Linked DNA regions of Homo sapiens: region 2 is linked to region 1. The links come from fine-mapping of genetic effects on gene expression. A gene starts in region 1. The other region holds a variant in brackets. All regions are shown on one strand. Distances are between the middles of the regions. Region 1 holds the start of PEX3 (peroxisomal biogenesis factor 3). Region 2 overlaps PEX3 (peroxisomal biogenesis factor 3).

The links. PIP is the estimated chance that this variant, and not a neighbour inherited with it, causes the effect.
Region 2: its variant is the best candidate, but not a certain one, in a credible set for the expression of PEX3 in blood mononuclear cells (TOPMed, PIP 0.65).

What each region holds. Positions count from the first base shown.
Region 1 is chr6:143,447,548-143,452,939 of GRCh38, reverse strand. It overlaps PEX3 (peroxisomal biogenesis factor 3), which reads right to left and starts at 2,135. Exons shown (of 12, transcript NM_003630.3): 1 at 1,825-2,135. The coding sequence starts at 1,897. It overlaps ADAT2 (adenosine deaminase tRNA specific 2), which reads left to right and starts at 2,245. Exons shown (of 6, transcript NM_182503.3): 1 at 2,245-2,377. The coding sequence starts at 2,282. It also overlaps the pseudogene RNA5SP221. RefSeq lists enhancers at 2,295-2,454, 2,257-3,239 and silencers at 2,995-3,074, 3,135-3,214.
Region 2 is chr6:143,485,073-143,490,395 of GRCh38, reverse strand. PEX3 (peroxisomal biogenesis factor 3) reads right to left here. Exons shown (of 12, transcript NM_003630.3): 11 at 5,148-5,244; 12 at 1-1,253. The coding sequence ends at 1,170. Among named protein-coding and RNA genes, the nearest start is that of FUCA2, 24 kb to the left of the region's middle. The variant C/A (reference allele first, on the strand shown) is at 2,520.

The DNA of each region.
Region 1 (5,392 bases):
AAGAGCTTAGCACAATGCCCAGCGTAAAGTGGGCACCCAATAAATAGTAGCTGTTACTATTAAAAATATATAAATCTTGTATTTCCATTTATATTACCTTCAGCATTACAGGCACTTGATAGGTATTTCTTAAGTTAGACTAATTAAAATCTAACACACTGTAGAACTTTCTCCCTGAAGCAGAAAGAACATGAGACTCAAACAAATGCCAACCACGGTCATCTACTCTTCCTTTCTTTTCAGACTGACTCCTTTTTTGATATAAAACACTAGGATTATTTTCTCTTTCTGGCCGTCTGAACTTTTCTATTTTTTGCATTCCTCTTATTCTGTAACTATAAAGCTCTTGTTAGTTTTTTAAAAAAATTATAAGTTTAAGTATACTCTTTTGCTTCCCCTGTGATTATTTCTAATCTACTACAAAGTTGTTCCATAAGCTGAAGGAGTATTCCTTCTGAGATCGCTAAAGAGATAATTTTCCTTCCTTCAGTAAACGCAAAAATACTTTATTTGTATTTCTTCAATCACACATATATTTTTAGCTTTTATAAATAAAATGGACTCTGTAGTCTTAGGATAATTTAAATATACATTAGATACTAGCGACTGAAGATATCAGAAAATACCTTTTATATATAAAGGATTTCTCGAAGGTGTTCAAAATTTACATATGCTTATTATTGATGTGTGATAGACCTCAGAGACATGCAAAACACCATCCTTGGCTCAGCAACAAGAACTCTGTTTCAAACTTTCAAGCATCACCAAAATCTGAACTATTGATGCTAAAGGTATTAATTGCAAATTGTTTGGGGAGAACAGAATACAATCTAATACGTACTGTTAATTTCAAATTGTTTGGGGAGAACAGAATACAATCTAATACTAAGAGAAAAGCCAACCAAATTCTTTGGGAAACTCTGTTCTTGATTTTAAGTACTTTTGTAAACATAGCATGTAATAAGTGATGAGACTATTTCTCAAAAACTCAAGTTCTAACAAATTTCCTCTTTTATAGTTCCTAGATGTCCTTTTCATATAATTCACAAAACTTTTATTCCCTCCTTCAAATCCCTGAATATTATCACATGAGCATTGTATGAGGGAAAAGCGTCTCAAGATTTTTATCTTATCTGTTTCTAAATCTCCTCTGGGCCTGTGCAACTCAGTTATGTCAGCTAGATTACAATGATCCCAACCTTGAAGATCCTGAGGAAGATTGCACAACATCCCTCAAGCATTTTTCTTACTGCCATAGTTTGTATTCTAAAATGGCAGAAACAGAGCTAAAATATTGATTTGTTTTTCTTTATCTAATCCATATCTTTCAGTCCTTTAGGACAACTGCGCTGTTTTCAAAAATTCAAATCGACTTTAACCACCACCCGAAGTGCAGCCTATAGGTAACTTCCCTAGATTATTATTAAACTCCTGAGAAGGGTGAGAGCCAAAGTATCAAGAGTGCCAAGGAGAAATGCAGAATCTCACAGGAAAGCAGAATTTTTTTTAAAAAGTTCCTGTAAGAGAATGGTGCCTTGAAACAGAAACTTAAACTGTGATGAGTTCTCCAAAGGTCCGTGAGAAAAAAGGATAGGTGAGAAACAGAGTTAAGAGTCGGTGACAGGGCAAAGGGCACAGAGGCATTTCTCAACTGCAGAGATGGGAGAACCCTGGAGGTTGGCCACCTCCCTTTTCATCCCATGGTTGATCGAACTCCCTCTACATATCCCAGACTAGGATCGCCCGGCCTGTCCTTATTTTAGAAGAAGTCACCTCTCCCACCCCCTTCTCCCAATGCCCCCTTTCAAGCACGTTGTCACCCACCTCCAAGGACCGTGCCCAGGAAGATGCATTTCTTTTTGTGGCGTTTCAGAAAATTCCATACAGACCTCAGCATCTTTAGGCCCTAGGGGTGTGGGCTGACTAGGGGTGAGGGACTGCTTCACCAGGAAACTGTTTCTTCGTCACCTGGCCCAGATGACCCAGCAAGAGCGCCGTCGTCCCGTTCTGTGCTCTCCCGAAATCACAAACGTGACTTTCCGCAGAGACTGTCACCGGAGCGGCAAGGGGGCGTGGACTACAGCAAAGCAGCTACGCTTTCTGCCGCTGCCGCCGCGCAGCCGCCGCCGCTCACTGGTCCGACAAGCCCAGGTCCGTTCAGAAATAGCTCCCGAGTGCCTTTTCATTAGACTACCCCCGGAAACGGGGTCCCGGGCCCGCCGCGTTCCGCTGCCCGCGCTCCTCCTCTGCCGCGGGCTCTGTAGCTGAGTGGTGGCTGGGTATGGAGGCGAAGGCGGCACCCAAGCCAGCTGCAAGCGGCGCGTGCTCGGTGTCGGCAGAGGAGACCGAAAAGTGGATGGAGGAGGCGATGCACATGGTGAGGAGCCCGGGAGGTAGATGCTGCGGGGTGGGACCTTTCTCCAGCCCTCAACCCGACCCCGGCATTTGAGCAAACGTTCTTTCTCGTCACCATAATTTTTATGGCAGTCAGATGTTCTGGGTGAACAACTGGCTTTACTGCCTCGAAACTTTCTGTAGCCCATTCTCACAGTGGCTCTGGGCGAAGGAAGGGGAGGAAATACACAAATTATTTGTTTCATTGCGGTGGAGTATGCTGCAGACTTAACATTCTGTCGCCGGCTGGCACGTGCTGCCTCCCTTTCCTTTCTGTGGTCACACACTCTCCAATCTACAAAGTCACATTATTTGAGGTTTTGGCCCTTGGAACATGTCCAGCAGAAGGAAGGAAACTGAGAACGTTTCTGGTAGAGAGCAGTATGGAAACAAGTCCCTGTACAATCGGCGTCTCGCATTCATTCATTATTTCCTCTGCCCTTTTACTTCCTTCCCTCACTCCCTTCAGGACTGCGAAATAAAGGGGGCTTTCAACAGAATGCTGTGTGCTAGCGAGCTTCTTAACTGGGAAAAAAAGTTTGTTTGTAAATATATGTATTTACATTTTAATAACTACATACAGCCACGTGCCACACAATGACCTGTCGGTAAAGGTCGTTATCCTGGAGCATTAAATCTACTCACCTTAGCCCTATTGTCCCATCCAAGTACTAACCAGGCCTGACCCTGCTTAGCTTCCGAGATCGGGGGACATTCAGGGTGGTATGGAGGTAGACAACCCTAGTTTCTATGTAGACTTCTGGGCTAAACACTTTCGCTACCTTTTAGGTTGACCCTGGGCTAGCACATGTAAATACATTTACATACGTTTACAAACAAACTTTTATCCCAGTTAAGAAGCTCGCTAGCACTTTTCAGCTCCATTATAATCTTATAGGACCACATATACAGCGGTGGTGCTATAGGATTATAATGAAGCTGAAAAGTTCCTGTTGCCCAGTGACATGTAGCCCTCCTAACAAGTACTTTTTTTCCTTTAAGACCTTGAAGAAACTTGTATATGCTAAAACCCAAGAAGCAGCTGCCTCCTTAATCCTGTGTAGGAGGACGTAAACTATGGAATCACATCCCTAGGTGTTTATAATACAATTAAGAGACAAAAAATGTCAAAGCCAGAGAGGTCTAGAAATTCTTTGAAAACATCTACATGTTTAAAAAGATACAAAGTAGCATGGCCAGATGCAGTGGCTCATGCCTGTAATCCCAAAACTTTGGAAGGCAGAAGCAAGAGGATCTCTTGATCTCAAAAGTTGAAGAACAGCCTGGGCAACTTAGCCAGACCCCGTCACTACTAAATAAAAATTTAAAAATTAGTAGGGCATGGTGGCATGTGCCTGTAGTCCCAACTACTCAGGAGGCTGAGGAAGGTGGATTGCTTGAGCCTTGGGAGATTGAGGTCGCAGTGAGCCGTGTCTGTGCCACTGTACTCCAACCTGGGAGACAGAGCCAGACCCTGTCTCAAAAAAGAAAAAGATACAAAGTAAAGGAAATACAAAGAAGGAAAATATTTGCGACATATATAAAAGGACAGGTTTAATAACCGTAGCATATAATTTATATAAAATCTAAGTACTTTCCGACGTAAAAGGAAAGATGTATACCCTAATACTGAAAAAGGTCAAAGGCTATGAATATATTTCTTTTTAAAATTTCTTTTTATTTTTAGAAGATTTTTTTTTGGTTTAGACAGGGTCTCTCTGTGTTGCCCGAGCTGGTCTTGAACTCCTGGGCCCGGGCAGTTGTCCCACCTCAGCCTCCCAAAGTGCTGGGATTACAGGTGTGAGTTACCACACCTCACCTGAACATGATATTTCTAAAAGAAGTGACGAGTGAGTAGCCAGCAAATAAATGAATACACAATTTCACTATTAATGAAATTCAAATTAAAATGATACACAATTTTTTACCTGTTAAATTGGCAAAAGTGAAAGCAATTTTAATGCTTGGTGATAATAAGGGTGTGCATGTTTGAGGTGTTTGTTGGTTGGGAGGAGCTGAATTTAGAAAACCCTTTTTTTTTGTATGTAACATGTATATTACAGTTTTTATTTAATATGCTGATAAAGTTAACTCTAGTTAAGCCAAAGTTGAAAGTTTTAAGTTTAATTTACTTTTTTTAAATTATTATACTTTAAGTTCTAGGGTACATGTGCACAATGTGCAGGTTTGTTACATATGTATACATGTGCCATGTTGGTGTGCTGCACCCATTAACTCGTCATTTACATTAGGTATATCTCCTAATGCTATCCCTCCCCTCTCCCCCCAACCCCATGACAGGCCCCGGTGTGTGATGTTCCCCACCCTGTGTCCAAGTGTTCTCATTGTTCAATTCCCATCTATGAGTGAGAACATGCGGTGTTTGGTTTTCTGTCCTTGTGATAGTTTGCTCAGAATGATGGTTAACAGCTTCATCCATGTCCCTACAAATGAAAAGGATGAACTCATCCTTTTTTATGGCTGCATAGTATTCCATGGTGTATATGAGCCACATTTGCTTAATCCAGTCTATAATTGATGGACATTTGGGTTGAGTTCCAAGTCTTTGCTATTGTGAATAGTGCCTCAATAAACATTCTTGTGCATGTGTCTTTATAGCAGCATGATTTATAATCCTTTGGGTATATGCTCAGTAATGGGATGGCTGGGTCAAATGGCATTTCTAGTTTTAGATCCTTGAGGAATCGCCACACTGTCTTCCACAATGGTTGAACTAGTTTACAGTCCCACCAACAGTGTAAAAGCGTAGAACACCCTTTTATTAGGACAATTTGGCTAGGCAGATATAAAAGGCCTTAAAAGTGAGCTTATCCTTTGATCCAGTAATGCCCTTTTTTTTTTTCCCAAAGTGAAAATATTTTAATGTTTTCTTTTTCTGGTTATGTAAATAATTCATGGTCATAAAAAATTCAAACTATAAAAAAGGGTTAACAAATTATGTAAAAATTACCTAAAAGTCCTACTATTAGAGATAATA
Region 2 (5,323 bases), 37 kb before region 1:
GCCAGGCCTTAGAAGAGATGTCATAATTTATTTTCTACCTTCTACTGTTCAGCTACATGTTACGCTGGAGGAACATAAAACAATGTTACTGAAAATATATGTCAACATACTAATGATATATAATGATTTATTTACTTTTGCCCTAATTACCCTTCTAAATGAAGAATTACAGATGTATTACTAGAGATAATGAATTATTTCTTTTTCAGAAAGTAAAGCTATTTGCTTTTTACTAAATGAACAAGTTAACAACAACAAAAAAGCACCAAGTACACGACCAATTAAAATGAAACTTAAACTAGCATGCTCTCTCTTCCGAAATAATAACAAAAATGCTATGGGATAAGTAAATTAATAGCTGAAAAATATTAACTCAACAAAATAATATTTTACTAAAATAGTTTATTGCAATAAGATTTTCACTGTATTCAAAATCAATACAAAGTAAGTTTTTAAAATTATGTACAAATGATTAAAACTATGTAATTAGGTGAGTAAACAGCATCAACACAATTTTAGCCTCTAAACCAATATGTAACTTTCTAAGGCTTTTTAATAAAACCTTAAAAAATATAGTGAAGAAATAGCAAAGAACATAGTTCATCATAGTTGTTGGAATTCACTATTTCCATAAGAATAAAAAAGTCCTCCATCAAGGTATATTTGAGACAAATAATTTATTATTTTGAAAGGTAGCTGGAGAAAAGTCTGATTCACTTCTGTTTACAGCAGTCTAGGGAACATTATAATTAAATAGCATATTTTTCCAAACTTCACACATCCTAGACCTATGTCTCCAACAGATTTTTCCTCAGTATTAATATGGTAAAGTACACTGAATTTTGTATTTTTATATATATATATGTATATAAAATATCTATATTGATTTTTAGTCAGTTTGGAACAAATGTCCATGTGTAACAAATTATTAACAATTCTGATATTTGCACGTGTATATATATATGCCCACAAAAACTGGTCTGTTGATGAATCTAAAAAAATATATTAAGATGCCAAATAAATTGATTTCATTATGAAATGAAGACTTTTATTAAGAATATATTTTATCAGGCATTTTGATAACAAACTGTTACTCTAAGTATAGGTGATTTACCCAGTGTATTTTAAAAAGTAAATGAATCCCACTGTAGTTTTTCTTGAAGGAAAAATCATTTCTCCAGTTGCTGAGGGGTACTAAAAGCTTCATACACATTAGCAGCAAAGTCTTTCACTTGCTCCATTGTCAACAGATCCTAGCAAAGATGATAATATAACATTATAGTTTGCAAAACATATAGCTAATTTGAATTAATTTCTGCAATCAAGCGATGAATTCAGCTCTAAGTTTTGTGGTAAAGGCCAAGAGGCAAACCATTTAAGAAAATGAGTAGTTTTTCTTGTAATAAATTCTAGGAGATAGTTATTATTTAGGTTCTTATATGAGGGATGATGGTATCATAAGCGTTCAAGTGTGACTTTGAGGGACAAAAACCCCAAATAGTCTTCAAATGAATTTTGGTGTATGTCAAGTGCTAGATAGGTATCTGTTGAATAAATAATTGTAGGAGTAAAGGTACTTTTGCTGGAAGCTGACATAACACGGTTAAGGGTGTATTACTTTCTAGAAGATCTAACATACGGTATGAATATGTGTAGTAAGTGCATATTTTACATATACACACATACATGAACCACACATATACACTATAGTGTAAGGGTTATTAACACCCCAAGGGATTTGCGAATGTGAAGATAAGAAAAAAATTACACCTTCATTTTCTTTAACTTCTAACCAAAATCTGGTATCTCTTTCAATTATGAATGTAGGCAACAAACTGTGATAATATTAGCAGGTTGTATGACTTTGTCTTCAATAGAAATCATAGGCATTTTCATGTCATATGACAGTTGTGGAAGTTATCAGAACTCTCATTATATCTTGGTATTTAATGCATGAATAAAGAAGCAATACCGCTATATCATACACTTAATTTTAAAAGAAATTTTGAAAACTATATATGATTGGTTTCCTTTATAATATTATGTATTTTATTGTATGCACTTATAAATATTGTTCTGAGAAGGGGTCCATAGGCTTCACCAGTCTGTGAAAGGGTCCATGATAGAAAAGGTTGACAGCCTCTGAGAGTGTCAAAGAAATGGGAAGTAAACCTGTCCCTAGTGATCTCTGTTTCTTAAGTATCGGAAAATCCAAGTGAGGTTTAGACATGTCCTAATCTCAATCAATTCATGGTTAAATTATCTCATCAGAGAATTTGATGTTATTTAGTTTCAAGTATTCAGTCTAGGTGTTCAATGAAACATAGGTTTAGATCAATGTTTCTCAAACCAGAATTTACAGACATACTTTCAGGGGCCCAAGAATTTGAGGGGAAATTTTGTGTTTTGATTTCTATGAAAATGTAAAGAAAACTCAAACACGCTCTTGATTATTGAGAAGATAAAATATATAACCTACTATTGTTCCTGATTTTAGGGCATTTGTTTATATTTATGTT[C/A]TTATTGGCTTTAAGTAACATTACTTTAACTGTCTTGTGCTAATGAGAGAAGAACAGAGGCAGAAAATCTTTCAAATGAAGACCAAATCATGTAAAACACATGATACAAATGAAGCTTTCAGAATAGTTACAGTAGATAAAAAAAAAAATACTAGCAAGTCAGCTTCAGAAAATGCAGGCTGAATGCTCAACAGCATGAACAGTAGCAGACAGGTCCACATTCACTTTGGCACAACAAATTATTAATAGTAGACGTCAGCCATATTATAGAACAATCTTTTTTTGTAATTTAGATTCTACTTGACAATAAAAGTGCTTTGGTTTTGAGTTACGAAAAAGCTCTAATCTTAAGGATCTTATTGAGTTTTTAATTTATACACTAAAAATGATTTAAACACTGGAGGACTGTGGTATATGTGTGTACATATGTATGTGAGGTGTATGGACAAATCTGAGAAATACTACCATTGTAGTGCAAAAGCAGCCATAAACAACACATAAACCAATGGGCATGCTGTCACCCAATAAAACTTACAAAAGCTGGTGCTTGGCTGGATTTGGCTCATAGGTCATAGCTAACTTATATCAGCTTTATAATAAAGACTTTAATCTGTTCAAATACTGTATCCTGATGCAGCTTCTAGGATGTTTCAGTAGTCTGAGATAAAAATTATGTATCATAGGGTTGGTTCACACTATAAAAGCTCTTTCCTTATGTTATCTGAAAGCAATCTGAAATAATTTATCTCCTGCTTATGTTATTTGAAAGCTATTTGAAAATAATTTGAAAAACCACCTTTCTCGATTGTTTTCTGATTCTCCCATTTCCTACCTTTACCAACTACCATCCTAATATCTTCTACCAAAGGGGTCAGCAAAGTATGGCCTGCAGGCCAAATCCACTGCCGCCTGTTTTTGTATATAAAGTTTTGTTGAAACAGCCATACTCTTTTGTTCATGTACGTTTCTGACTGCTTTCACACTGCCAGAGCAGAGTTGAATAGTTTCTGTAGAGAATGTATGTTGCATTAAGCCTAAAGTATGTACTATCTGGCCCTGTACAGTTTGCCAAACCCCTGTTCTACAGCATTCCCACCATAGGCTCTCCTACACACCATTGTAGTTGAAGTAGTAGCAGTAATTCGAAAGGACTAATTTTATGTAAATTAGCATTCTAATCAAGGCAAAGGCTTTATAAAAAGATAAGTGGAAATAGTAAAGCATATGACAATTTATTAAGAAGACCACTTGGTATTTTAACTCATAGAAATTATAGTTTAAAAAATTAAACTATAATTGTAATAGCCTTGTCAATCAATGGTCTAGTATATACATTTAATATACATCCAGTTACAGTAAAAAACTTTACTAAACATTAGTATCAATGGCGTTTTTACCATATTGAAACATTTGTTTTTATTATCAATTATATCGATTTTAATTAAAGTGTAGTGCATAAAATTATTTAAGCATTAAGGCTGATGATGCTTTATGCTTGGTTGTAATTTCCACTCATCTGTCAAAATGAACAGCCTACTGGCCAAGCCAGGGACTTCTACAGAAGAGGACAAAGGTAAAGGTAAGGTTTAAATGCCCCAAGTTATGACCTTTTTCTCACATTGATATAGATGTGAAGCTTAACATTCAGTAAAATGAGATCAGTCTTATTCACTATTTCTTCTGCAATATGAGTGCCAAGCTCTTAGGGGTGAGAAAGAGGACAGAAGACTGAAGAGTCCAGTGTGGGAAAATGTGCATGTGAAGGACAGGCTGATGACACCACAGTGAAAGGAGGAAACGAACTCTTAGTCTCAGTGCTCTCCACGTTCCCAAGAGTAAAAAGTCTACAGAGAGGATACACTAAATTGTCTGAGACAAGTTACACTAAGAAGATGTCAGCTTTATGCTTAGGCCATAGGGTCTCTTCTCATTGTACATTATTGAAGCAGTTTGCAACTGGCATTGCAAACAATTTTTTAACTTATAACACAGTTTCCAAGTTTGCACATGACTCAGAAATTCAAAGTTATTTTGTTTATAATATTTGTCTTACTCAATGAATTACTGAATTACTCAATGAATTACTGAATTACTCCATGCATTCCAAATGGAAATGAAGAAATAAGATGGAGTTATAGGTAGTCTGATAAAACATTTAAATGACCCACTGTTTATGTGGCTTTTAGTGAGCATATTATTGATGCACTATTAACTGTTACATTTTATTAATCACTAAAATGCTTTACTTCTCCACAAATTTTTTTAGTTTTCCTCAAAATGTGTAGAACAGGATCCTTGATCTGCCCCAAGGATCAATCTTCTTACTAGCACAGCTTAATGCAAACATTCATGCTATATAAATTCAACTGACCACTATAATACACCTGGACTAAAATGTAGTCCCACAGTGTTGGACTACAACACGGAGAAAGGTACTCCAAACTTACACATTTGCTATGGTCCGTTATTACTCTCATGGGACACTCTACCATACTCTACATGTAGTTCCAAGTTCTGTGATTTTTTGAAAAAACCTCTCAGCAGAGAATGTAACTTTATGTTAGACAAACATGACCACCACCACAAATATAATTTGCTTTTAATAACACTCCCAAGCTTTCTTCTTACCTGAACAAAATGACTAGGTGTTTCACTGCAAACTGAATGGATCTGTCCGTTTACTATTGGAATTATCTTAGCTAAAGGCAGGCTGACACTGGAAAGACTGAAAAATCATTACAGTAATGATTATTTTCTGAAATGACCCCACAGGACTTTAACATCTTAATTATAAAAGTAATACA